Linked DNA regions of Homo sapiens. The protein of the gene in region 2 binds, or shares a complex with, the protein of the main gene of each other region. Each region holds a gene or a part of one and is shown on either strand. Other genes may lie near its edges. The genes, in order: TFDP2, RBL1, MYBL2 and ARID4A.

Region 1 (7,454 bases), on a different chromosome or scaffold from region 2:
TGCATTACCAGTTGTTAAATATTTTGACTGTCACCCCTGTTCATAATCTAAGACCCTGTGGAAAATTTCACATGTACAAAGGAGACAGGAATATTCATAGCATCAGAATATGAAAAAAGGTAAAAACTCCCAAATGCCTTTCAGTAAGAGAATGGATTATCTGCCGGGCATGTTGGCTCACATCTGTAATCCCAGCACTATGGGAGGCCAAGGCAGGCGGATCACTTGAGGTCAGGAGTTCGAGACGAGCCTGGCCAACATAGTGAAACCCCGTCTCTACTAAAAATACAAAAATTAGCTGGGATTGGTGGCGCGCACCTGTAATCCCAGCTACTTGGGAGGCTGAGGCAAGAGAATCACTTGAACCTGGGAGGCAGATGTTGCAGTAAGCTGAGATTGCACCACTGCACTCCAACCTAGGCAACAGAGCAAGAGTCTGTCTCAAAATAAAATTAAAAAAAAAATAATAAAATAGAATGGAGTATGTAAATGTTATTTTTGCATTAGTGAAAATGAATGACCACCCATCAAGATAGATGACCCTCTTAAAATGTTGAACAAAAAAAGATTGGCAGATGAATAATAAATTTTATTCTAAATTTATGAAGTTCAAAAACATGAAAAGCTAAGCAATATATTATTTGGATATACATACACGTGTGTTAAGATTATAAAGAAGAACATGGAAATTATACACAGAATTTAAGATGTTATTTTGGAAAGGGAAAGTTGTGGGGACACACTGGTAGGGGGCACATGAGGTTTCAATGGTGTTAATAATATGTTGCTTAAGCAGGTACATGAGGGTTTATCATGATTCCTCATATCTCACATTTACTTTATATTTTTTAGGGTGAATAAAATATTTTATCCTAAAAATATTTTAGGTTTGATATTAAGGGGTTACTTTTATTAAGGGTGACTTTGAAACCTTTCTACTGCTCTAATGCAGTCATTCCAGAAAACTGGGGAGAGGTTGAATCCCTCCCTGAGGAAATTCCGAGGCTTCGCCTCTACTCTGTCCTATTAAGGTGATTAAACTGTACATAACAGGATTGTCTCTAGAAGCAAGACCCAGATTTAACACTTATAAGTGTTATTTCTTTTGTCAGTCACTAGATGGATTTGGTGTGAAAAGAAGATGCTTTAAAAAAAAATCTGAAACTGTTCTGACAACTGCAGATCTTTTCATGTGATAAAAGGTGTCACTAAGGACCTTCTTACTCCAAGTGTGATTTTTGGCTGCTGAGGCAGCACCAGCATCACTTGGAAGCCTGTTGGAGATGCAGAATTGAAGCCACACCTTACAGACTGAATTGTAAGATTCCCTAAGTGATTACTGTGCACCTCAAGGTTTGAGAGGCAGTGGTCCAGGAGTCTGGTACTTCCACCTGCAAAAGCAGTATCCAGTGCCAGCAGAGGGGGCAGCACGTGGAAATGCCTCAGGTTTAACTGTAATGGACCCGTCTTTTTCACAACCCTCTTTGTGTTGGCTATTCTGTGGCCCGCATATTTCTAAATAGAGTAGACTTTATTATACCTCTCTCCTCTTTCCAAATTTGCTGGGCTGTGGACTCTCATCTATTCAATAAAAACATTGAACTTCCATTAAGCACTGAGGAGATGATAGTGAATAGAATGATATGACTTTGACTCTAGAAGCTTACAGTCTAATGGGATGCAGGTAGCAAGTGAGTAATTACAAGTTTAATGAATGTTGGAAAGTCAAAGAAAATTTTATGGGAAAACAGTTGGAGATGGGGACTCCGGGGAAGCTTTTCTGGAGAAAGTGTTGTTTAAGTTTAGATGAAAAGGCATGTGCAGGTGAGTTGTGGGTGAACTGGGGGATTGTTCCAAGCATAAGGAATGCCAATGAATGGTGCTCTTTGGACATCTGTTTGTATTGCCAGTGCCTTGCATAGTTCTTGGCATACAATAAGTGCTTAATAAATGTTTGCAGAATCAATAAATGTTCTGTCACATTTCAGATGTCTACTCTCTGGCATTGGAGATGGTGGAAACTTTATTTTCCTTTTCAAAGGAAATAAGATCCCTTAATGGGGAAATAAGAAAGAAAGCTGACTGTTGTGCAAATTGCTAAATTGGAACTATGAGTGGGAATGAAAAATTGATTTACATGAATTTTCTTCCCTGTAGCAACTTGACAATTTATTCTGTTCTGGAGAATTCTCAGTTTTTGGCTTAAAAACCAAGCTGTTCCTCCTTATTCTGAATTTCTTGGCCTGCTGTGAAACTAACATTTACTGTCTTTTACAACATGCCCTGATTAGGTCATGGAAATTCACAACTAAATCAAACTAGGATATGGAAAATTTGAAACTTTCACTGCCCATTTTATGTAATGGCGTTGGAAGGTGTTATAAAACATTGACTTTTAAATCTTTATTTTCAAAAGCTATATTATACGATGAATATAATAATTGCCATCATTTATTGAACACTTACTACATGCATTACATAGCAAAATCCTCATACTACCTCTGCAAGAGAGTAAGTTGAACCATATGAAAATTGCCCAATATCAGCAATTTCATGTGGTTCAACCTAGTATCTTCAGACTCTGACCTATAAAGAGGTTAGGGAATCCCTCATAGCCATAACTTCACTCCAAATTTAGTACTGAATCTTTTAGTACTATCTTTTATAGATAAAGAGATCCTAAGATAGTTACAGCTCCTCTATGACAGCGACCCCTTTCCCTACATTAGCCCAAGCACTTTGTGTGTGTACTTCCATCATGGTTATTTACGCATTGAATTGAGGTGGTTTACAATCCATTTCCTCTGCTACACTGAGTTCCTTGAGGGTGGATGTTTTGTCTGTCTTGCTCATTTTTGTATACGTAGTACCTAGAGTGAAAAGTATTTGTTGAATATAACTTTAAGTTTTCTTAAAGTTATATTTTTTGTGGAAACTAAATTTTTATTGATTTGTTACTGGAGAATGTGAAGTAATCACTGGGGTTTTTGCATTTTAGAATCAGTCAGTGGAGTACTGCATTTGACATTCTTGGACTCTCAGGACTAGTTACATGCAATTATGCATACAATTGTCTCTCCACCCTGCCCCAGAGAAAGATCTGAAAGTGCTCTCTTACCTATCTCATCTCCTTTAGGCATTTGCTTAAATACCACCTTCTCCGTGCTACCTTCCCAGATCACTCTATTTAGGACTGAAGCCATTCCTCCAACACCTCTGCTTATATTTTTTTCCCATAGCACACATACCAGCATGTAATATAGTTTTTGTTTTACGTATTCTTTTGCATATTATCTTTCCCATCCTGCTAGAATGTAAGCTCCATGAAGGCAGGAGTTTTTGTCTCTATTTTGTCCACTGATGTCTCCCCATATCAAGAATAGTGTTTGGGGCCGGGCGTGGTGGCTCACGCCTGTAATCCCACCACTTTGGGAGGCCCAGGCGGGAGGATCTCTTGAGTCCAGGAGTTCCAAACCAGCCTGGGAAACATGGCGAAACAGCCGGGTGTGGTGGCGCGGGCCTGTAGTCCCAGCTACTCGGGAGGCTGTGGTGGTAGGATCACCTGAGACTGGGAAGTCAGGGCTCCAATGAGCCGTGATCCTGCCACCGCACTCCAGCCTCGGTGAGAGCAAGACCCCGTCTCAAAAACAAACAAAGTGGCATATAGAAGATCTATAAGATTTGACTGGAGTAAAATGAGAAAGATCTAATCGTTTTAATGCGCTGTTCACACGGGGTTTTTAACTTCGGCACGAACGAATGAACAAAATCTTTTCATATGGAACCAAGTGTACGGGTATTTGGGGTGTGTGCAGTTTCCGCGGGACAGAATGACCTGTCCTGGTTTGGGTATTAACTTGCCTTGATATTGAAGAACCTCCACATTCCCAGTGGTCTCTAACTCATTGTCTGAATAATTTCAAGGTGTCCCACAGTTGGCCCCACGCATAGCCTCAATCACGATCACTCGCCCCCCTGTCCCTTATTGATGCTCCCCCAGGGCGACCCCGCAAAGGCCTGGGGACCGAATGGAACTGCCCCAGTCCCCCTCCTTCCAAGAGAGCTGGGGTTTTCTGGCTTCGGGGTCAGTTGGAAAAGAGATTCCCACCCAAGTCGCAGGGTGGGAGTAGGGGGGATGAGATAGGAGTGATGAAGGAAGTGTGTCTAAAATTCTAGGCCTCAGGCCCGCAGCTGTCCCTGGAGGCGGCGGGGAAGCGGGGTGGTCGGGTCCTGCGGAGGGCTCCCAGGGAGGCCACAGGGGGAACCAAGGGGCGGTGGCTGAGTGCACGAGTCCCGCCCCTCCATCTGTTGGCCCCCTACTCTCAAAGGGAAGCCTGGGGGCGGGGTTTGTTTACTCCGTGCACGCACTGCCGGCCCGGCCAATCCGTGGGGAGCGGCGCCAGGCGTCGCACATTCTGAGGGCCAATCGGCGCGCACTGTGCTGCTCCGCCGCCAAAGCTCGCGCGGGGGAAGCGGGGCTGTAGCTGGGCAGGGAGAGGGCGGACGAAATCGGTAGCGATCTCGGCTGCGGCGCTGCCGCAGCTGCCCGGCCCGCGGGGCGCGCCCTGACCCTTCATCTTTGGGCAGGCTCGAGGGCGCGCGCACGGTTGGCGTTCTGGGGCCTCAAACTCCTGGGCCTTGACCGGGCAGGCCGCGTCTCCCCGGGTGTGAGTCCACCGGGACCCGGCCGCCGCCTAAGCGCGGGCGCCACAGAAGCGGCGGCGCCCGAAGACGCGCTCCTGGCTCGGCCCGACAGCCTCGCTTGGCCGCCAGTTCTTCTGCAGCCGAAGGCGGTAAGGTCTGGGGCGAGGGCGCGGGCCCGCGCGCGGAGGGCCTTTGGACCCGGCCGGGCGCGTTCCTGGGTAGGTTTCCCTCCCTGCGCACAGGGGCCCCCTTGTTCCCCCACGAGTCCCATCTGTTTAGACCTGGGTTCTCCAGGCCTGGCCGGGTAACCCGTGAGTGTCTGGGCCAGAGTCGAAAGCAGAGGAGGGTCACCCTCTTAGTGCATAGAGCAAATCGGGGGAGGTAACGTCCCTGAGTCACGCCTCGTGGAAGAGGGGAAGGGCTGCTTTCTACTTTCTCGTTCTCTTCAAAGAAGGATGGCTTCTAAATCTGGTTTTCCGATTTTTCCCTTCTCCTTTCATGACTCACAGGCCTCTGTGTCCACCAGGTGTTTTGTTTGTTTTTAAAGAGTTTCTAAGCTTTGTGTGCTTGGAAGAACCTCATATGCCCCATAAAGGAACTTTTCTCTGAAGTAGAGGATCGCTTTTTGGGCCCAGACTCCTTTGAGAAAATCTGGAAAGCCAAGGTCTGTCTTCACAAAGAAGTGTAAGGGTTTTCCTAGGATCTCGCTGAGAGACAGTACAACGAAGTGGATGAGCGCCCCAGTCTCTCTTACCAGCCTGTGCTATCTCCCATTGTGTGATCTCGGTTTCTTCATCTGTAAATTAGATGCATCCACCTATTCGGTGTGTTTCGGGGAGTGAATGGACTAATGTATGGAATGCAATCGTAAGAAAATCCTCCACGTATTAAATGCCTTGCATTAGTTAGGCACTTTTATTATTGACTGCCATGGATGCTGGTTTAGAAAAAGACCCTATATTATTTCCCTTTTAGTGTTGAGACAGTGAACGGGCTCATTCCTTTTCCATATTCACTGCTGAAGCTGCCTTTGAGCCCATGAATACTTTTATCTTTTCCTCATTCCATCTCAGAGGGCACAGACTCCCTCTCACTTATTTGCTTTCTTTCAGTAAGGCTCTCTTTTAGCTCAGCCTTCTCCTTCCCCTGTCTCCCCGAGATCTGAGTTTTGTGTCTTTTCATTTGACTTGCACAACCTACTTTTTTTTTTTTCTGGGCCATGTGTTTTCTCTTCATGGCTTGAATTTATCTTCACCTAATAAATAATTTACCTGTTTTTTTTTTCAGCTCGTGAATATATATTCATCTATTTTCTATATGGCATAATCATGTCCCTGTCTCTCTTTAAAAGTAGATATAAAAATAGTTTAATTGATCTATATTGCAGCTTCCTTTTCCATTTCATTGTTTAGCCTGTTATTTAGCTAAACTTTATCACTATCAGATTACTGTAATTAATCTTTAATGGCAGTGTCCATTCTCAGACAGCACCAGGAGAAAAATCAAATGCCTAGACCCCAGATTCTGTCACACTTGTGTACTGGCTCTGGATGTGTTTGTTATTTATTAGAACATCTTGTGCCTGTAACTAGTCTAGTCTAAGAGTAGACATGGTGTCTGTAGCGTTGTTCTGGCTGTGCAGTTGCAGTTTGAGCACTGTGGCCCTTACATTTGTTAATAAAAGGTTCAAGACTTACTAAACTCTTACTTTTCAGTTCTCTTCATTTCTAGGTGTTTAAAAAGGAAAGCTGAATTTTTGCAGTGTGTAATACTTCATATTCTCATTTTGTGATCATGTAATTCCTCCCACCCTGACTCTTGTGAATGTGTAGTCCAAGTGGCACATGGAAGTTTTTCTCTGGCAGCTAAAATTCTTAACTGTCTGAGCCGTGTGCCCTCAATATAACTGATGAAGTGGGATGTACTTCCTTGTCATCATCTTTTAAACTCTTATTGCAATATGTGTTATAATGGATCTCAGAAGAAACTAGAAGGCATAGATTGAGAGTTCTTTTAGATCATAGAATTTTAAATTGTAGTGGATTTTAAAGAGAATCAAATACACTCACCTCTTCATACTTAAATCCTTTCCGTTTTAATCTGGGATACATGACTCTAGGTGTGCGGCATGAATAGATATGAAAGTAGGCTTGTGAACTCTTGGAAATATTATGCAAAATTATGCATATTTGTATATTTTTTGGAGAGACTATTTATAGTGTCATAGTTTCTGAGGCAAAGATATTTGATCAATTCTTTTTTTTTTTTTTTTTGAGACAGGGTTTCTCTATGTTGCTCAGGCTTGTCTGGAACTCCTGGGCTCAAGTGATCCTCCCACCTCACCCTCCCAAGTAGCTGGGGTTATAGGCACACACCTCGCCATGTTTGGACAACTCTAATTTTTATAAAATTATTTCTTTCACTGAACTAGAAATTGTGTCCTCACTGTCTCTTCTGTATTGTGGGTTTTCAACTATTTGAAGATACTTATATTCCACTGAGTGTTAGAAAATATTCTCAGTCTTTAACCTCTGCTAGTGACTTTTGTGTCATTGTTTTCATTCACATCTCCTCACAGAACTCATAGCCCACTTGTGGATTTGTTTAGTTCATCCACATTCTTCTGACAAGCATGGTACCCCAAATTAGGTATTAACTAGTATAGAAGACTAAGTTACCTCTCTAATTTTAAAGCATGTACTTTAAGAGTAGACTTGCTTCTTTGGCAACCACATTACACTGTTACTTTATAATAATTTACTAGTTAAGAAGATTAACTTTGGGGCTAACCTTCCTGTGTTTAGATCCTA
Region 2 (6,885 bases):
ACTTCACATCTGGAGCTAAGAAGAGGAACAGATACTATCATTTATAATTGGTGAGATATACAAGCTATAAGAAGAACTGAAGATAAAGTGTTGTAGGAGAATATAGTGCAGTGAATAACTGATTTTGACTACAGTTTAGGGAAGGCCTCACAAAAGGAGACAAAATTTGTAAATCAATAAAAATGTAAGCAGGAGTTTGTCAGGTAGACTAGAGAGGGGTAGGGATTGGAGAAAGACTTCTTAGGAAGCATGAGATATATGAAAATGACTACTCCAAATACCTTTAAAAAATTGATTTTAAAAAAAGAGGAAAATAAACACTGGATAGAATAAACACAAAATTTCAGTTCATACATTTGTGCTTTCTAAAGCAAGCATTGGGCTGGGCTCGGTGGCTCATGCTTGTAATCCCAATGCTCTGGGAGGCTGCGGCAGAAAAATCACTTGAGGCCAGTTCAAGACCAGCTTGGGCAACATAGTCAGATACTATCTCCACAAAAAATTGAAAAATTAGCTGAGCACCGTGGTGCATGCCTATAGTCCCAGCTACTGGGGAGGCTGAAGCAGGAACATCACTTGAGCACAGAAGTTTGAGTTTACAGTGAGCTATAATTGCACCACTGCATTCCAGGCCTGGTCAAAAGAGCAAGACCCTGTTTCTTTCCATTTTTTTTTTTTTTTTGAGATGGAGTTACACTCTTGTGCAGGGTGGAGTGCAATGGCGTGATCTTGGCTCACTGCAACCTCTACCTCCTGGTTTCAAGAGATTCTCCTGCCTCAGCCTCCTGAGTAGCTGGGATTACAAGTGCACGTCACCATGCTCAGCTAATTTTATATTTTTAGTAGAGACGGGGTTTCACCATGCTGGCCAGGCTGGTCTTGGACCCCTGACCTAAGGTGATCTGCCCACCTCAGCCTCCCAAAGTGGTGGGATTACAGGTGTGAGCCACCGTGCGCCCGGCCAAGACCCTGTTTCTAAGGAAGAAAAAAAGAAAGAAAAAATAAATAAGTAGAGCAAACATTGAAGATGTCCTATTCAACTCTGCCTAACTAGAGATTTAGCTCTCAACTTTTCCTGGTGTTGGGGGTGAGGGGAAATATTCCAGGCAGAGGGAATGGCATGGATATACCACAAAACTGGGAACAAACTTGTCATATTCAAGAATCTGAAACAGGTGCATGCCTTGACCATAGTTTGACACAGTAAATGCTTATTCAATGACAGATGGTGTGACCTTGGGCAAGAGAGACCAAATCAGACCTAGGATGTCAGAAATGCTTTCTCAGGCTTTCAAAAATCAATCTGTTTTCAATTGAGACGCCATTCATTCTAATCTCCCTTACTTTCTTATTCTTCCCACAGCTCTCCAGTCATGCCACCCACGGATGTGGACCATTGTCCTTTACCCAGTCTATCCAGTTCTGAAGACACTTTTTTCAGGTACTACTCCTTCATATATAGGCACACATACAATCGACACTTTTCCAACTCTATGCCTTTGAACCCAGCAATTATTTCACTGGGTGGTGAGTCAGTGGTGCACCCTGGGAGTGGGTCCAGCGCCCTTGGCACATGAAAGCCTTTGAACATGAGGCCAGTGGTGCTACATGAAATACACTCCATCACAATTCTGTCTACACTGGGCTTATGCTCGTCTGGGTTTCTTTCTCTGTTTTTAGATAGAGTCTTGCTGTCACCCAGGCTGGAGTGCAGTGGTGTGATCTCCACTCACTGCGGCCTATGCCTCCTGGGTTTAAGCAATTCTCCTGCCTCAGCCTCCCGAGTAGCTAGATTACAGGCAGGCGCCACCACACCCAGCTAGTTTTTGTATTTTTTTAGTAGAGATGGGGTTTCGCCGTGTTGCCCAGGTTAGTCTCGAACTCCTGGCCTCAAGTGATCCGCCCGCCTTGGCCTCCCAAAGTGCTGGGATTATAGGCGTGAGCCGCCACGCCCAGCCTGGGTTTCTATATTAGAATAATCCTAGGCAAGACAACCTTCTGAGCCTTGCCATTATCACCTGGAAAGCAGTCTAATACTCATTGCCATGCCATGTTCACAGGGCTGTTGCGAGGATAAAATGCAAGAATGATGGGGAAAAAAATCAAGTAATTATAACTGACATTTGTTTTATTCAGAGCCAGACACTGATGCAAAGCATCAGGACGATGCTCTGACGGAGGAGGAAACGTAGGGCTGAGATCAGCTTCGTGTGCACATTGGCTTTGATCAAACTGCTGCACAGCGACCGGCAGCTCCACCCTGGTGAAGCAGAGGGTGGAGGTTAAACGGCTCAGACCCTGGGTCTGGCTCCATCTCTAACCGTGTGACCTTGGGCCTGTAGCTTAACCCGTCTAGGGCTCCGCTTCCTCTTGCGTGAAATGGGGATCACAGAAGGGGTTCAGACGGAACTGAGGGTCCATTTAAAGCTCTGGGCAGTGATGTCTTGGCATGCAGTTCATTTTCACTTTACCATTATATTTGTTCTTACTGATTTAAGGGCAGCACCATGACTTTTGTGGCGCTTGGCGGGGTAGAGGGAAGTGTGGTCAGGAAGCCTGGGGTCTGAGCGGCGCGGGACCTAGGCCGCTCCTTTCCTGAGCTTCAGTTTCCCGCCTCAAAATGATGGGTGGATTGGCTGAGCTACACCCACCTTTCCCGCCCCTCGGCGCTTGGCTGCGCAGCGACCCTCCTAGGTGGGGAAACTCCCACCACCCCATAGGCCGAGGAAGGGGCGGGGCAGGGGTGGGGCCTGGCGAGGGTAGGGTCCGGCCGCCCCACCTGCTGCCGCTCACCTCTAGGCTGTAGTTGCCTCGGATGGCAGTAAAGTCGTCCAGGGCTTCGGCCGCGCTCCCCTCGTCCAGGTTCAGCTCCTGGCACAGGGCCTGTAGCGCCTCCCCGGCTGCGGCGACCACCGCCGCCCCCTCAGCGTGGGGCTTGTCCTCGAACATCCCTTCAGGCCCCGCGGGCTGCGCGCCACGGCCCCCGACTTCTTTCTCCCTCCCAGGCGCGCTACCCACAACCACCTGCGCCAAAGCGCGCGAAAATCTGCAGCTGCGGGACGTGTTGTCATCCACCGTCTGCCTCCGCTTTTCTCCTCAAAAAAAGTCCGTTTTTCCTCCGGAGCTCCTAGCAGTCCCTCCCCGGAAATGTGATAAGAAGATGTACCTCAGATTCTGAAAGACCTGTCCTTGGCCCTTGGCTGGTCGCGGGGGGCCCAGCCGGCGGGACAGAAAAAGAGCGGAGGGATCCTCAGCCCGCGCGCAGAGCCTGCTGGGAGGTGTAGTCCATCTCTTGGGAGATGAAGCCCGCGGCCTCCCCCTGTCTTCCTGGTTAGGCTCTTGGGTTTTGGGGCAGGGCTGGGCTGCCTACTGCGAGGTGGCCTCGTGCAGCGTAGTGAGATGCCTCCTCTATCCACGGGCCCTGGGTTTGTCACTGTCCCTGGGCGCCAAACATAATCTGAGCTGTACCCCTTGAGTTAGGAGATGGAGGCTGGAAGAGAAAAAAGTAGCCCCTGGACGAAGAGGGGCCTCTTGGGACTCTCCCCAAAGTCCTAGTGCCCAGTGAGTGGTTCGCTAAATGACAGAGGGGAAGGATTGGTGACGGATATTAGAAGACGAATCCTCATCTCATGCTAGTCGCTAAAAGAGGCAGGCAGAGAAGACTGCAGTAAATGAGGCAGGAGAATAGGGTCTGGAGGCAGGGAACCTATGGCTGTTTCACGTGACTTCTTAGAACTAAATTGAAAGGAAAACCCCAACTTTCCACGCCTAAGTAACAAAAGAACCAGAGGCTGTTCCCTTGGACCTTTTCTGCATGGCAGATGGGAAATTGGCTGTCTGCAACAAATCACACTGAGCGCCTTCCAGTCTTTGTTTGCAACTTTGTAACTTCACTCCAGCCTCTGAACGGTTGCTGTCCACAACCAATCAGACTGATGGCGGGAGAGTCTTCCTTTGCATAGAAGTATAATTTTGTTAACTTCACCCTGGCCTCTGATTGGTTGCTTTCTGCAACCACTCAGACTGATTGTGGGCTACCACTTCAGTTACATCAAGAGAGCATAAAGTGGCCAATGGGAAACTTCTAGAGGGTATTTGGACCCCAGAAGATTCTGTGTCTGGGCCCTTGAGCTGCTGCGTGGGTTCGCTTCCCCACTATGGAGTGTACTTTTGTTTTCAATAAATCCCTGTCTTCGTTCTTTTGTTGTTCCATTATTTGCTTTGCCTGTAATCCCAGTACTTTGGGAGGCCGAGGCAGGTGGATCACTTGAGTCCAGGAGTTTGAGACCAGTCAGGCCAACAAGGCAAAACCCCGTCACTACTAAAAATATAAAAATTAGCTGGGCGTGTGGGTGCACTTGTGTAATCCTAACAACCTGGGCAACTGAGACATGAGAATAAAGAATCGCTTGAACCGAGGAGGCAGAGGCTGTAGTAAGCCAAGATTGCACCACTGCACTCCAGTCTGGGTAACAGAGTGAGACTCTGTCTCAAAAACAAACAACTGAGGACACATCTGTCAAACCCAGCCTCACCTGCATGCATTTAAAAAAACCAAAAATCAATATGCCCTTCCTTATATTGGTTTTATTTTTTCTTATTATCCCAGGACATGCCCATTTAACCCAAAATTGAGCTTTTCTGAATAGAAAATGAAGTATGGAAGGCCGGTTGCAGTGGCTCACACCTGTAATCCCAGCACTTTGGGAGGCTGAGGCAGGCGGGTCACCAGATCAGGAGATCGAGATCATCCTGGCCAACATGGTGAAACCCCGTCTCTACTAAAAATACAAAAATTAGCTGGGCATGGTGGCGGGCGCTTGTAATCCCAGCTACTTGGCAGGCTGAGGTAGAAGAATCGCTGGAACCTGGGAGGCGGAGGTTGCAGTAAGCCAAGATCGTGCCACTGCACTCCAGCCTGGTGACAGAGCGAGACTCCGTCTCAAAAAAAAAAAAAAAAAAAAGAAAAAAGAAAATGAAGTATGGGTAGTGAAATAGATTTACTCTGCCCTTCAGTTTTGAGCCAGATACACATGAAGGTTGTTTCTATTTTGATCCCATTGTGTGATAGCCTCTATGATTAGCCTCCCTGTTGTGGTTTAATATTTCAGAGTTCTCCCAAAGCATGTGGTTGGAACCTGATTATGACCTTTAGGGATTCCAAGACTAAAAAGATTATAGTGTGTACCCTTCCAAATGTAATTCAAAATATATGCAATTCTAAATCACAAAATAAGTGTAAGAAAGTACAAGAAAGTTCTAACTAATTTTCCCAAGATGTCTCATTTTGAAATTCTTAAATTTTTTTTTCTTTTTTTGTCCTCCAGCTTTGCTATGCCCTAAGCAGAAAATCAGTCTGCACTTGCCCCTCTCAGGACAAACTGCTTGTCTAACCTTCTATTAAAAAAAAAAAAAAAAAAAAAAAAAGCAGTTGATATTTGTGGGGGAGGGGCAAGACCTGACCTCACCATTCTTTTTTTTTTTTTTTGAGACAGAGTCTCACTCTGTCACCCAGGCTGGAGTGCAGTGGCAAGATCTCAGCTCACTGCAACCTCTCCCTCCTAGGTTCAAGCAATTCTCCTTCCTCAGCCCCCCAAGTACCTGGGACTACAGGCACACGCCACCATGCCCGGCTAACTTTTTTTTTTGCATTTTTAGTAGAGACGGGGTTTCGCCATGATGGCCAGGCTGGTCTTGAACTCCTGACCTCAGGTGATGCACCCGCCTCAGCCTCCCAAAATGCTGGGATTATAGGCGTGAGCCACCATGCCCAGCTGGACCTCACCATTCTTAATGTTCTTTTTCCTTGGAGGAAAAACTAAAGTGGTGATCTTTAAGCTGGTTCTGCACTGTGGAAGTAGTGCATTACAAAGATTAATAAAGCCTCTCTACCCACAGAAGGGGGAAAGGATTTGCATACAATCTTAGAAAAGCAAATGTAAATGGCTTTTAGATGTGAAAAGATGCCCAACTTTCTTTCTTTCTATTTATTTATTTATTTATTTATTGAGACGGAGTCTCACTCTTGTTGCCCAGGCTAGAGTGCAATGGAGAGATCTCGGCTCACTGCAACCTCTGCCTCCTGGGATCAAGCAATTCTCCTGCCTCAGCCTCCCGAGTAGCTGGGACTATAGGCGTGTGCCACAACGCCAGGGTAATTTTTGTACTTTTTAGTAGAGACGGGGTTTCACCATGTTGGCACAATGGTCTCAATCTCTTGACCTCGTGATCCCACCCGCCTCGGCCTCCCAAAGTGCTGGGATTACAGGCGTGAACCACTGTGCCCGGCCCCAACCTTTCTAATAGGAAAAATATATATACAAGTTTAAACCGGTATAAAACCATATTTTAATCTATTCAATTGTCAAAAATCCAAAAGTTTGAAAATGTTCTAGTGACTCCCCATTTCTTTCAGGGTTAAGCCAAGCTCCTTGTCCTGGCCTACAAGGCACTAAGGGTCTGGTGGTCCCCTGTCTAACTCTGCCTTCATTTGCTACTCTCTCCTTTCTCACCCTACCGTAGTCATACTTGTGATTCCTTTTGGCTACCTTTTTTTCCTTTAATTTTGAAAAATGCAAACTCAATTTTTTATGTAGTTGTTAACCCCAATGTTTAAAAAAAGTAAAGCATTTCATCCAAATTACTAACTAAAAGATAATAGCTAAGAATACCTGAACCAGATATCAAAGAATTGGGGGTAATGGGGGCCGGGCATGGTGGCTCATGCCTGTAATCCCAGCACTTTGGGAGGCTGAGGTGGACAGATCACTTGAGGCCAGGAGTTCGAGGCCAGCCTGGCCAAAATGGCAAAACCCCGTCTCTACTAAAAATACAAAAATTAGCTGGGCGTGATGATGCTCGCCTGTAGTCCCAGCTACTTGGGAG
Region 3 (7,391 bases), 6.6 Mb from region 2:
CTTCTAAAGTGCTGGGATTACGGGCATGACCACTGTGCCCAGCCTGAATCTCTTTTGATGACCCATATTTTATGAGATACAATTCAAACTCTAGCATTCCCAGCTTTCTCACTTGAGGTCCAAGCCTTTCTAACTCTCCAGCCCAAATGTTAGCTTTGTAACATTGCATCCACTCAATTTAAATGGAATGTGTAGAACCCCTTCCATGAGTACCTACCAGAAGCCAAGCTATAGTAAAGGTCTGAAGCTTAAAATGTGCACAGGCTGTCCTTTCTCTTGAGAGAGAAATAAAATGGTGGAGGAAGTGTGATGAGGACAAGAATGATAAGGAGGATGCTCTGGAGGTGGAGGGGGAAGACTCCAGCCAGAAGGGCCATGTGATTCTACTTATCATCAATTAGTGTTTGGTGTCCAAGCTGGTGCTGAGCCCTGAGCATTTAATAAATTGATTTGACCCTTATCTTCCCAACACAGGGTCAGGCCTGGGGGTTGGGGCAAATTGTGGAATAACCAAATACCTGGAGCCTCCCTGTCCAAGGAGGGCGTGTTCAGGAAAAGTTTCCCAGCAGAGATAAATTCTGTATGTTACTAGTCCAGAGTCCAGGGACCACTCCCAGGTGTGGTTTCACTCGGGACACTGGGAATCCTCTCTCCAGGGGATATCTGTTGGTATGATGATAACTGGAGAGGAAATGTGTGGAGATCATCAGATTCCATCTGGCACTAGGGTGATCTCCCTGCTGCCTGACTCACAGCACTGACTCCAGGCTTCTTTGGCTCTGGGGCATTGGTTAACTGGCCCCAGTTCCAGGTTGCAAGTGCACTCTGCAGCTGTTCCCTGCCTCTTGCTTTGGGCAGATACCTTGCCCAAGCTGTCAGGTCCTGCCTCTCCCTGAAATGGGATGACTAATGTGTGGACCTCAAAGGATAAGAGTGAGGGCAGCTGAAGAATTACAGTAGTAATAATAGCTAACAGTAATATAGTTCTTTTTTTGCTGGGCGCGGTGGCTCACGCCTGTAATCCTAGCACTTTGGGAGGCCGAGGTGGGTGGATTGCCTGAGATCAGGAGTTTGAGACCAGCCTGGGGAACATGGTGAAACCCCGATCTCTATTAAAATACAAAAAATTAGCCAGGCGTGGCGGAGTGCTTCTGTAACCCCAGCTACTCGGGAGGCTGGGGTTATTGAGACGGAGTCTTGCTCTGTTGCCAAGGCTGGAGTGCAGTGGCACGATCTCAGCTCACTGCAACCTCCGCCTCCAGGTTCAAGTGATTCTCCTGCCTCAGCCTCCTGAGTAGCTGGAGTTACAGGTGCATGCCGCCACGCCCGGCTAATATTTTATATTTTTAGTAGAGATGGGGTTTCACCATGTTGGCCAAGCTGGTCTCAAACTCCTGACCTTAGGTGACTCACTCGCCTCAGCTTCCCAAACTGCTGGGATTACAGGCATGAGCCACTGTGCCCGGCCAATATAGCTCTCATTATGTGCCAGGAACTGTTTTTGGTGCTTTACACATATTAATTTATTTAATCCTATAATTACCTACAAAGTATAGTGATTAAGAGCATAGACTCTAGAACTAGACAGGCCAGGTTTGAATCCCTGCTCTGCCATTTACTAGCACTGTGACCTTGGGGAAGTCTGTGCCTCAGTTTTCCCATCTGCTAAAAGAGGATAATCCCAGTATCTACCTCATAGAGTTGTTACAAGGATTAAATGAGTTACAATTTATAAACAGAATGCTGGCTGGAAATATTAGCTGGGCATGGCGGCGTGCTCCTGTAACCCCAGTTACTTGGGAGGCTGATAGTTTAAAAACTATCTAAAATTTTGATAAATCCCATTTTTCCAGGTGAGAAAACTGAGGCACAGAAGAGTTAGGTAATTGGCTGGGCATGATGGCTCATGCCTGTAATCCCAGCACTTTGGGAGTCTGAGTCGGGTAGATCACCTGAGGTCAGAAGTTCAAGACCAGCCTGGCCAACATGATGAAAACCCATCTCTACAAAAATACAAAAAATAGCCAGGCATGCTGGCGCATTCCTGTAGTCCTAGCTACTCGAGAGGCTGAGGTGGGAGAATCATTTGAATCCGGGAAGTGGGGGTTGCAGTGAGCCAAGATCACACCACTGCACTCCAGTCTGGGCAATAAAGCAAGACTTGGTCTAAAAAAAAAAAAAAAGTTAAGTAATTTGCCTAAGATACCGCAACTGAATGGTGGAGCTGGGACTCAAACCCCAGGAAGTTTGGCTGTGGAGGCTGTGCTTTCAATGAAGTGGGCATGTCCACATTAATTACTTTATAAGGGGAGTGGGCGGGAGAAACCCTGAATTAAGTGATGTGGAAGCTTCTAGCACTTAAGATGTGAGTTAGTCTTCCTTCTGTGGTAAGTGAAGTTTGCAGCAGCTGGTGGCTGGACTGTCCCCAGGTGGCCAGCAGCTTCTGGAAGGGGGCTCTGAGGCCTGAACAGGGGCTAAAAGGCTGGGGTTTGATTTGGTTTCTTCAGCGTCCTGTCTCAGAGCTCATTTATCTTCCTCTCAGCACTGCTCCCAGGAAGTCCAGTGTGACTTGATCCTTGGTACTTGGTAAATGTCAATCTAATATAGAAAACCTTTGCTAAATCTCAAGGAAAGACAGTCTCACTGTCTGTCGCCCAGGCTGGAGTGCAGTGGCGGGATGACAAGGGCTTGAGCCCCTCGAACTCCTGGGCTCAAGCAATCCTCCTGCCTCTGCTTCCCAAGTAGCTGGGATTACAGGCATTCACCACCACAGCCAGGTAATTTCTTAATTTTTTGTAAAGACAGGGTCTCACTCTGATCCCCAGGCTGGTCTCAAACTTTTGGACTGAATCAGTTCTCCCACCTCGGCCTCCCAAACTGCTAGGATTACTGGCATGAGCCACTAAATCTGGGCTAATCTCTGGGAGTTTAAACCCAAGGTAAACAATTCAATGCAACAAACCTTTGCCTGGGGCTTCTTATGTCAGGTCTTCTACTGGGCCCTGGAGATACTGGTGTGCATTGAGAGGCCACCTGGACCTCAGGATGCTCCCAGTTCAAAGGGGGAAATGCAGAAGTCTACAGGCAGATTGTGGGCAGTGGACCCCAAATTAAATAGGAATCAGCCACGTGGGAGGGGCAGGAAGTGTTCCTGCCCTGGGTAATGGCTCAGGCAAAGGCAAAGAGGCCGTTTCTTTTGGCCAGGGCTGGGTGGTGGTCTGGAAGATCAGATAAATGTGATTGTGGAGTAAGGAATTTACCCTGAGGGAGAGGAGGATGGTTTTAAATTCTGGAAAGAGCTCACGCCTGCAATCCCAGCACTTTGGGAGGACAAAGCGGCAGGATCTCTTGAGCCCAGGAGTTTCTAGACCAGTCTAGGCAACAGCAACATAGCAAGACACCCCCTTCTCTTAAAAAAAAAAAAAAAAGCGCAGTGGCTCACTCCTGTAATTCCAGCACTTTGGGAGGCCGAGGCGGGCGGATCACGAGGTCAGGAGACCTATACCATCCTGGCCAACATGGTGAAACCTCGTCTCTACTAAAATACTAAAAAAAAAAAAAAAAAAAAAAAAAAATTGCCGGGCGTGGTGGTGTGCGCCTGTAGTTCCAGCTACTTGGGAGGCTGAGGCGGGGGAGTCGCTTGAACCCGGGAGGTGGAGGTTGCAGTGAGTCAAGATCGCGCCACTGCACTCCAGCCTGGCGACAAAGCGAGACACCGTCTCAAAAAAAAAAAAAAAAAAAATCAGCCGGGTGTAGTGGCGAGTGCCTGGTCTTAGCTACCCGTGAGTTGAGGTAGGAGGATCGCTTGAGCCTAGGAGGTGGAGGTTGCAGTGAGCTATGATCGCGAAACTGCACTCCAGCCTGGGCGACAGAGCAAGACCCTGCCTCTAAGAAAAATGAACAACAAAAAATAAAGTCTATTAAGGAGGGTCTCTTGGAGGCAGGAGAGGAAGCAGGGAGAGGCACAGGTAGGGTGAGGAGCCGCTTTAGGGTGCGGCTCTAGGGACCCAGTAGTGGCTTGGACTAGCGTGGGGGATTCCGCCCTGGCGCTTTCCCTGGCTGGCTCTCCCATGCTCGCGCCTCGCTCCCCTTCCTCGGTCTTCGCTATGTGGGATACTCCTGGGCCGCCCCGGACTGACACGTGAGCCAGGCCTCGGTCACATCCCGGCCCGCTCCACAACTCCGAAGTAGCGGCCGCCGCCCCTGTCCTGCAGCCGGCCCTGGAGGGTCTGGGCAGGTGCCGCCCCGCAGGCCCCGCCCCGCCCCGCCCCCTGGCTCCGCCCCTCACTCAGGCCCCTCCCCCGGCGCCCGCGCGCCAGGACTGGGCGGCGCCGACGCGCTTGGCGGGAGATAGAAAAGTGCTTCAACCCGCGCCGGCGGCGACTGCAGTTCCTGCGAGCGAGGAGCGCGGGACCTGCTGACACGCTGACGCCTTCGAGCGCGGCCCGGGGCCCGGAGCGGCCGGAGCAGCCCGGGTCCTGACCCCGGCCCGGCTCCCGCTCCGGGCTCTGCCGGCGGGCGGGCGAGCGCGGCGCGGTCCGGGCCGGGGGGATGTCTCGGCGGACGCGCTGGTGAGACGAGCCGGGAGGGCTTGGGCCCCTCCCCCTCCCTTTAACTCACCCCTCCCCCACCCAGATACCCCCGACCCTCCCCAGGCTCCCACCAAGCTGGGGTGTGTGTGTGTGTTGGGGGTGGGGTGTTTCCGCGGAAATGCTGCGTCCTGGGCCCTCTGAGGCAGGGGCGCGCGTAAAGCTGGGGGGCTCTTGGGCGTCCCTCGCGGCTCCCCAGGCCTGTTGGGCCTCGGAGCTGGGACGGGCGGGTCTCTTGGGACCCGGGCCAAGCCGTGCATGATGTCATTTTGTCTCCCGCCTAATTGCGGGATGGGGGTGGGCCGGCCGGTGTCAGCTGGCAGGGCCTTCGCCGGCGAGGGAGGCGACCCCTGGGAGCGAGAGGGAGTCTTCAAGTCCCAGCCAGTGGGAGACCGAGCCTGGGAGGCACTTGTTGCAGCCTAGTTTTGGGTCAACTTGGTGGGTGGGCTTTGCTCCTTAACATTCCGGGGAGCACAGAGTCCCCCAAGCCCTCTCCCCTGGACTGAGAAGGGTGCTGAGTTGGGGGCTCTTTTGTCTCTCCCACCTGGGTTCCGCGCCCCAGCTTGGTTCGGTTTGAGACCTCTCTTCCTGTTCCCACGAGGAGTTTTGGGCAGCTGGGGTTGAAGGTGCGGGGGAGAGAGAGAGTCCCTGGGGCAAAGGCAGGAACTGCGGTCTCCATTTTACTTATTTCCCCAGAGACTTAAGTGGCAGAGCTGAGCCCGGAGCCAGGTCTGTGGCTCCAGATCCCTGTCTTACACCTGTGCGCCTGGGGCCTGAGCTCCAAGCTTTTCAGCCTGCCTGGGAGACAGGACAGTGGGGTCCTGACCTCTTCCCTGCCTGGATCGCTGCAGCTCAGATAACCTTCGTTCCCTCTTTTTTTTTTTTTTTTTTTTTTTTGAGAAGGAGTCTCGCTCTGATGCCCAGGCTGGAGTGCAGTGGCGCGATCTTGGCTCACTGCAACCTCCGCCTCCCAGGTTCAAGCGATTCTCCTGCCTCAGCTTCCCGAGTAGCTGGGACTTCAGGCACGTGTCACCACGTCGGGCTAATTTTTTGTATGTTTAGTAGAGACAGGGTTTCACCATGTTAGCCAGGATGGTCTCGATCTCCTGACCTTGTGTTCCGCCCGACTCGGCCTCCCAAAGTGCTGGGATTACAGGCGTGAGCCACCTTGCCCGGCCAAACTTCGGTCCCTCTTTAGACGATAGCCTCATCTAAAGATGAAGCCTTCCATCCCTCTAGATTTTTGCCCTTTCAGGCTGAGGATAGGGATCTGAGCACAGGGACTGTGTTCCTCAGGCCCCACTTTCCCAGGCCAATGTCCAGGAAGAGTTTTCTGTTCAGGCGCCTATCAGACCCTGCCCTGGTTTTTTTTTTTTTTTTTTTTGAGGCAGGGTCTCCGTCTGCAGTCCAGGCCGGAGTGCTGTGGTGCTGTCATAGCTCACTGTAGCCCCAACCTCCCAGGTTCAAGTGATCTTCCCAACTCAGCCCGCTGGGACTGCAGGCTGAGTAGCTGGGACTATGGGCACGGGCCGCCACAACTGGCTAATTTATTTAATTATTTAGGAGACAGAGCCACTCTGTGTTGCCCAGGCTGGAGTGCAGTGGCACAATCTCGGCTCACTGCAGCCTCTGCCTCCCGGGTTCAAGGAATTCTGTCTCAGCCTCCCAAGTACCTGGGACTATGGGCACACGCCGCCACGCCTGGCTAATTTTTTGGATTTTTAGTAGAGATGGGTTTCACTGTGTTGCTCAGGCAATCCGCCTGCCTTGGCCTCACAGAGTGCTAGGATTACAGGCGTGAGCCACCGCGTCTGGCGTGTTTTATTTTGTGTAGAGATGGAAGGGGGCGGGAGTGGCCTCGCGTTGTGTCTCACCTCACTATGTTACCCAGGCTGGTCTCGAACTCCTGGCTTCCAGGGATTCTCCCCCACTTGGCCTCCCAAAGTGTCGGGATTACAGGTGTGAGCCACCTTGCCTGGCGCCATCCTGATTTTTTGTTCAGGAAGAGTTATTCCAGGAGTGACTGCCTCTAGACCACCCCAGGTCCTGGGCTACTTCTCCCATGAGGGGCTCAGTGGAGGAACCCCTCCTGTGTGAAGGATGGCAGCTCCACAGCCCTCAGCCCATTTCCTGGCCACTTGCTGTAACTCTCCTCTGCCCTAGTGCCCCACTTCCCGCTTTGTCTCTGACTCACCCCTGTCCTGGAGCAGAGCCCAGCACGTTGAAGGGCAAAAGGTAGGGTATGTTGGACCACAATGTGGTTGCCACCACTAACTGGACTCTGCTTTTTCAGCTGGGATTAGGATATGAGGACTTGCAGGTGTCTGGAGTTAGGAAGGTTCAGAGCCTGGCTCTATGAACTTGGCAGGTGGCCTCACCCCTCTGAGCCTCAATTTCCGCATCTGTTAAGGGGGATAATGAGAATGTGGGTGAAGTTGATGGCCAGCACATATGGTAAAGTATATCATCTCACAGAAATGCCCCAGCTGTCTGAGATGCTGACCCTATCAAACAGCATTGGAGGCTGGGTGTGGTAGCTCATGCCTGTAATCCCAGCACTTTGGGAGGCCAAGAGTTCAAGACCAGCTTGACCAATATGGTGAAACTCCTCGTCTCTACCAAAAATACAAAAATTAGCCGGGCGTGGTGGTAGGCGCCTGTAAGCGCGGCTATTCGGGAGGCTGAGGCAGGAGAATTCACTTGAACCCAGGAGGCAGAGGTTGCTGTGAGTCGAGATCATGCCACTGCACTTCAGCCTGGGTGACAAAGCGAGACTCTATCTCAAAATAAACAAACAAACAA
Region 4 (6,850 bases), on a different chromosome or scaffold from region 2:
CTGAGCTGGCCATCACCAGTTGTTGTATAAAATCCACTTTTTCTCGCACATCACAATCTGACCAAGAAATGGTTTGTTGTTGCAAAAAATAAGGGATAAGGACACTTCAAAACAATGACTTTTTTTTTCGGTCAGTTCATGAGGCACCCACTTATCGAGCTTTTTCACTTTTTAATTTGCTTCAAATGCTGAAGGACTGTAGAATGGTCCACATTGAGTTCTTCGGCAACATCTCAAGTAGCCTTAAGAGGATCAGCTTTGCTGATTGCTCTTAACCGGTAGTTATCAACTTCTGGCGACCAGCCACTACGCTCCTGATTTTCAAGACTTTCCTTCCCTTTGCAAAATTTCTTGAAACTGCCAGGCACAGCGGCTCAAGCCTGTAATCCCAGCACTTTGGGAGGCCAAGGCGGGCGGATCACGAGGTCAGGAGTTCGAGACCAGCCTGGGCCAAGATGGTGAAACTCCATCTCTACTAAAAATACAAAAATTAGCTGAGCATGGTGGTGCGTGCCTGTAATCCCAGCTACTGGGGAGGCTGAGGCAGAATGGCTTGAACCCAGGAGGCAGAGGTTGCAGTGAGCCAAGATCATGCCACTGCACTCTAGCCTGAAAGAGCAAGATTCCATCTCAAACAACAACAACAAAAAAACTTCTTGAATCACCACTGCACTGTAAGTTAACAGTTCCTGAACCATATGCATTGCTGATATGGTGTCTCTGTTGTTTTACAACCCATTTTTAACTCAAAAACGAAAACTGCTCGAATTTGCTTTTTTGTCTAACATCATTTTCATTGTCTAAAATACACATGAAGGCTGGGCACGTGGCTCATGCCCGTAATCCCACCACTTTACGAGGCCGAGGCAGGCAGATCATGAGGTCAGGAGATCGAGACCACCATGGCTAACATGGTGAAGCCCCTTGGCTCTATTAAAAATACAAAAAATTAGCTGGTGTGGTGGCACGCGCCTGTAGTCCCAGCTACTCGGGAGGCTGAGGCAGAAGAATTGCTTGAACCTGGGAGGCAGAGGTTGTAGTGAGCCGAGATGGTGCCACTGACTTCAGCCTGGCGACAGAGCGTGACTCTGTCTCAAAAATAAAATAAAATAAACATGAAATAAACAGAGAGTAATAAGTCATTACCAAAAGAACAAAGCGAGAAATGCCCATTAAAATGATGTATAACATAACCACATTTATTTAACAACGTAGTCCAACATCAAATGGCAAATTCCAATAATGCAAAAACCACGATTACTTTTGCAACGACCTTCTTAGACACAATATTTTGCAAAACATGTACAAGGATATTCACTGACATATTACTGCCATTATAGAAAAATAAACACGTTACATAAATTATGATATATTTATCCCACAAAACACTATGAAGACATAAAAGATGCTTTACGATAAGATATTTCCAATATTCCCAATGTTTTCTATAAAGAATAGACGGTAATGAACAACACTAGAATATTTGGTAAAACAAAACCAACAAAAAAGACAAAGCCTTTTGTATAATATATAACTATAGTGTAAACCGTAACTACCTTTTGGAGGAGGGAAGACATTTTTGTATTCTTCTTTGGGCTTTTTAATAATTTCCAAATGTCCATGCATTATTTGGATTCAATAATAACAGTTTAAACTTTGATCGTAGAATTATGGATGCTTACCCCCTAGAAAATTCAGTAATATATTGTTTTATAAGGTCTTTTAAAAAACTGCTTCACTCCTACGAGATTGCGCCACTGCACTCCAGCCTCGATGACAGAGAGAGACTCTGTCTCCAAAAAAAAAAAAAAAAAAAAAAAAAAAGCCTCACTCCTAAACACTCCCATTTACAAGATCTTTTCTATATAAGAACTTTTTAAATAGGCGGGTGGGGGGGAGGAAATCACAAAAATACGCATAATGTTTTATAACAAAAACATGAGGTATATCAAAGTCCAGAAATGAGAACCACGTAAATGGGTAAACAAGTCCATAAGGATGTCCTAATTTTGGGATTTCATTCTAAAATATTACACTAGAAAGCTAATTATACAGACTCATTTGAATCTGACCAAACAAAACATCTTTTAACTACCCTTCCTCCCATTCTGGTATTTCTTTACTAATCCATAGAAAGTTTTTCCAGGTAGTCCCCCGCAATTCTAAGGATTTTTAGACTTTATGACTCACCTCAGTAATCACTGAGATGTTCTGTTTTCTTCAGCACAACTGCCAAAAAACCCAGTAATTGTTAAGTCACACAATCATTTTCTAGTTATGGGCGCCACCAATATAGCAGTAGGGTTTAAAACAGAGGTATTGAGGGTAACTATTAGGATCTATCCAGTGTGACTAGGTCACTCACTAGAAATGCCAACATGCATTTCACGTTTTTATGAATACTTTTGAGCAAAATTACTGTTACGAATAAAAAACTGATTCTGCTCGGCTGTTTTCTTACTGAGAAAATTTAGTCCACGTGGATTACTGACGATATGTCACATTTTAAAAATTACTCCATTCTATAAAACTAGTCAATTTTATACTCCAATTCCGCTATTTAAAAATGTGTGTTTCGTTTAACAGAATATAAGATGTTAACAGAAAAAGATCAACGTCTATCTTATCGGGGACGTCCTTTTGTCTAAGATGTTTTCAGTCCCTGCAAAACCACTGTTTGCTTTCAAAAAGTAGCATAAGCCTCGTGCAGAGTGACAGACCCTTGTCTAAGGTCACAGAAGAAGCGTCTGCGCTGGCAAGTAAATTCCTCAGCATCCAGAAAGCCAGCGCTTTCTCCAGTTTCCTCATAGCTTTATCCCGTGAGGAGCACGCGGAAACCTCTACCCATGCAGGATGTTTCTAAGAACCACTTCTTCCCTGTCTTAACTAAGAAGGCTCCCACAGCTGGTGCCAATCAGGTGGAGAACATGGCAAGTCCCCGAAATGCACTTCCAAAGACAGGAAAGATTGCAGTGGGACAGAACCCAGAAAATCTCTCACATTCTCGAAAACCCGAAAGAGAACCTCCAAGAAAGACGTTTGCCTCTCCTCCACCTCTTTATCTCGGCGGGAGAGGAAGCCTCGCCCCCATTCATCCCGCCCCTTCTCCCCACCCCGCCGCAGGGAGAAGTTTACCATGGCTGCCTGCGGCCCCTTCACTTCCGGTGCCGGTGCCGCTAGGGCTGCGCCATCCCCCCAGTCAATCGGACAACCATAGCCTCCAACTGACCTTTCTGACAGCTCTGAGACTCCTCCGGCCACGACTAGGTGCTGTCCTGGAGGAAACGGTGGAGGACGGCCGCACAAAAACCAATCTACCTGATGAAAACTCCGTTCCCTTCTCGCCAGAAACATAAAATGCGATGGAGCTACGGCCACCGCTGCCGAGACAAAATGGCGCCGACAAGCTGGTTTAGCGCAAGCGCCTTGGACAGACCCTGCCCCGCCCCCGTGCAAGCCCCTGGCTGCAATTCTGGGTTCCGTTTCCATGGGACACTCCGCCGCCAATCCTCGTGTCGAACTGCTCTTCCTGACCCCTCAATTCACCAATCAGTGCCCAGTCAAGCACATCCGGAGTCGTCTCTACCAATCATTTCTCAGGACTTGCTTACTCAATAACCAACTCTCCAATAAAGTTGGTTTTCGGAAAAAGCCAATCATAAGTGGAAGATGTCCTACCTGCTGTTTTTCTCACCAATCCATGAAGTTTCACAGCTACATCCAATGAGGACGGCAGGTAGCGAGGTCCTATCCGAAGCTCTTCGGCGTCATGAGCAGCCAATAGGAGTTCGTGTAGAAGCGAGTCTGCTCAACAGCTTGTTATTTGGTGGATTGTGGCAGTAAATCGGGGCGAGTGGGGAACCCGGCGCAGGAACTGCAGCCGCGGCTGGGAGTGGTGCTGCCCGGACGGGGGCCCACGGAGGTCAGAGGGGAGGAGGACTCTGGAGCTGACAGCGCGCACTTCACCCGCAGTTGGTAGGTGGGGAGAGGGGAATCCGGGGATACTGAATGGACGAAGTGGCAGTAGCAGCAGCTGCTGCTGCCCGAGGTCCCGGTGCAGTTGGAAGCTTTGGAGGTGGGGAGAGGGATGCTAGGCAAGTGGCACGGCGAGCGCAAGGGAAGGGGCCAGCCATTGACCAGCGGCAGCAACTGCAGGAACCGCCGCCGCAGTTGCAGCCGCCTCCTCGTCCGCTTCCTCGGGTTCCCGGGAAAATGGCTGTGGGGCTGGCCGCGCCGCTAAGTTTGCTTCCGCGCGGTGAAGAGCGGGCTGCTTGGGGGAGCCGTCCCCCAACTCCGCGGCGCGTCCACCTCTGCGGAGTCCGTGGCAGGACTCGAGGGGCTACGAGCTGATACCTCTCTGGGCTGTACAAAAAGTTGAGGCGGGCGCTGGGAGGAGGCAGCGGCTGCTGCGGTGCGGCTCCCCTCCCCTCCCACACCCTGTCCGGGCCACCTCCCCTCCTCCTCCCCTCCGCCCCCCGCCCCCTCCCCCACGCGGGTCCCCCGGGGCTCTGGCGGCTCCCGGCTGAAGGCCGCGGCCCCTGCCCCTTTGGGTGAAGGAGCGCTTCTCCTTTCTGACATGGTGCAGAGCGAAGGAAGGAGAGCAATGGCGCCGTGACACTCCGCTGCCGCCACCGCGGGCCCGGGGCGGGCCGAGGGGGCCGAGCGGCGGAGGCGGGGCGCGGGCCGAAGTCGGGGTATCCGGGGGACCGCGGAGCGGAGGCTCGGCGGTCGTCTCCGCGGGGGACCTGGGGAAGCCCGAAGGGAGCTCTGGCCTTTTCCGGAGCTATCTGTCCTGGAGCTCCGAGTTGAGCATTCCGGGTCAAAGTGGCCAGCGAGGCGGGGGCGCGGTGGGCCGCTGGCGAGCTCCGGGGCGGAACGGGCTGCCCTTTGGCGCTCGTGGGGTTCTCGCTGCCCCCTCAGCTCCTGCGTCCTGGCTGCCCTCGTAAGGGGTCTTGTCCCTTGGCTGGTGAGGATTCTGCCCCTCCCCGCTGGCGTTTGTTTACTTTCTTTCCCTTGGTCGCTCCCCGCAGTTGACTGATTATGTCTGTGCCTGTCTTTCCCCCTCCCCATAGTTCTAGCGACTGCGAAGATAGCTCGCTGAGCTGGAACCCCACAGATCACCAACAAAAATGAAGGTAAGTGGAGTCAACTCTGCCCCGATCCTCGCGCCCTGAACACTGCCAATCCTAAGGCTAGTGCCGTGGAATGTCATTTGTTTTGCTACTCAAAATTGATGTTCCTACTGATCAGCAGTTTCGGCATAGGAGGATGTGTTGAATGGGTGAAAAATGATCTGTGTGTCTAAATGCGGAGTTTAGGCCCTCTCTGTAGCAGTACTTTGGAAAGGCTGGTGCAGCCTTTCAATTGTTGTCCATTCGGATAGTATTTTTAAACACTTCCTGTGTTGGCAGCAACCTTTGCAGAAGTAAAGCTTTTGTCCTGCTTTGGTTCTTTGGGGGATTTTTTGTAAATTTTTTTTCTTCCCGTGTGCCAATGCGATTTTCTAAAAGAAAGAATACGTGGATTAAGTAATGAAGGTATCATTTCTTCTGTGTGTAAAATGAACTTATGTGGCTAAAATATTTGAAGTTGAAGTATAATAATAGTTTTAGTTAAATCTTTCCAATAAGTATTTTAAAACATATACTAAAAAGATACATATTCTACTGAGGATGACTGCAAATATCAGTATGTGGATGGTTAAAGGGAAAGGATCTCATATAGCGTTCTTGAATGCTGTGGCCATTGAATGTTTCAGGTCAGATTTTTGTTTGCCAAAAGCATTCCTATTCAATTTGTATTTTTTGTAAATGCACTTACTTTAAAAGGTACCCAATTCCTGTCTTATTTACTGTTTCAGCATATTAAGCTCTGAAATATAGCATTTTCCCAAACTTTCTCGTGGTTTTCTATTTTCTCGAAGTAAATGACATATTTAACCTTCTTTAATATTACTTGGGAAAACTTATTAGAAAACAAAAAATCATTTTCTACTTCAAAACGTATCTCCAAAGTGTACACTGTTAACTTTGCACTTAACAATGTTAAGTTGAACTTGTATGGATACACTTTAACTTCCGGAAAAAAAAAAAAAAGGTAAAATGACAGATTGAGATAGCAATCATCCTGTTACTGTAAAAATTAAAATGAGTGGTAGAGTGACATTTCTTACATCTTTCTATGTATCATTCTGGTCGTGTCCATTTGCTGAAAGTAGATGTTTCTTAGTAACGCTTATTTTTTTATACTAAGAAGATTAGTGTGGTAAACTAGGTATACCTACAAGTCTGGAGCCATCAGTTCATATCTGCATTCATCGGCTGAATTCAGACTTAAAACCTTTCAAGTGCAGCTTTTAGCAAATGAATTTTCCAAATGATACTTTCCTTATGAAAAGATGTTACCTTTATGTGGCTATGTCAATAAACAATTATGTATTGTTAGTGTTAATATTAGTAGCAATATTTCTTTTAATTTGAAAAATTTCAGGAAGCTATAAATGAATAACTTAGTTTTATGATATGTGTAATATGAAATATTTTTTCTGTTTTTTTCTTATCTTTCTGCTTATATAATAGTAGAATTTTTGAAAAATTTTGTATCGAGACAAAACATTATTAATCACTGATAATTTTGAATTACAACTTTAAAACATTTTATCATATCAGGACATCAGTCTATAAAATGAAAGGTTGCTAATCAAGTATTTAGGGTATTTTTCAAATTTTCAATGATATTAATAAGCAAGTCATTTTAATATTCTTAATGCTTCAAACACAACCTTTTAATGAGACTTGAGGTTGGAGTAGGGAGGCATAGTAATGACATTCACAGTTTTATGTTCCTTTCA

Evidence for each region.
Region 1: RBL1 (region 2) and TFDP2 share a complex: the UniProt entries of both Homo sapiens proteins name them as parts of the DREAM complex.
Region 3: RBL1 (region 2) and MYBL2 share a complex: the UniProt entries of both Homo sapiens proteins name them as parts of the DREAM complex.
Region 4: the proteins of RBL1 (region 2) and ARID4A are in contact, whole or in part, in a crystal structure (PDB 7SMC), measured with the Homo sapiens proteins. Residues at the interface, in NP_002886.2 of Homo sapiens: Tyr849, Ile850, Lys853, Val854, Thr860, Phe861, Gln862, Met865, Lys866, Arg869, Tyr879, Arg880, Asp929, Leu930, Ile931, Tyr934, Asn935, Val939, Ala946, Leu947; in NP_002883.3 of Homo sapiens: Leu957, Val958, Cys959, His960, Glu961, Val962, Asp963, Leu964, Asp965, Asp966, Leu967.

The regions. Positions count from the first base shown.
Region 1 is NC_000003.12:142,146,522-142,153,975, reverse strand, and holds the start of TFDP2 (transcription factor Dp-2), read left to right. Parts: upstream 1-4,431; 5' UTR 4,432-4,793; exon of another isoform or gene 4,794-4,862; intron 4,863-7,454. UniProt on the Homo sapiens protein: Can stimulate E2F-dependent transcription.
Region 2 is NC_000020.11:37,092,980-37,099,864, forward strand, and holds the start of RBL1 (retinoblastoma-like protein 1), read right to left. Parts: upstream 3,019-6,885; 5' UTR 2,950-3,018; coding exon 2,794-2,949; intron 1-2,793. UniProt on the Homo sapiens protein: Key regulator of entry into cell division. Directly involved in heterochromatin formation by maintaining overall chromatin structure and, in particular, that of constitutive heterochromatin by stabilizing histone methylation.
Region 3 is NC_000020.11:43,662,733-43,670,123, forward strand, and holds the start of MYBL2 (myb-related protein B), read left to right. Parts: upstream 1-4,381; 5' UTR 4,382-4,551; coding exon 4,552-4,571; intron 4,572-7,391. UniProt on the Homo sapiens protein: Transcription factor involved in the regulation of cell survival, proliferation, and differentiation. Transactivates the expression of the CLU gene.
Region 4 is NC_000014.9:58,294,726-58,301,575, forward strand, and holds the start of ARID4A (AT-rich interactive domain-containing protein 4A), read left to right. Parts: upstream 1-3,829; 5' UTR 3,830-3,975; intron 3,976-4,465; exon of another isoform or gene 4,466-4,966; intron 4,967-5,072; 5' UTR 5,073-5,129; coding exon 5,130-5,135; intron 5,136-6,850.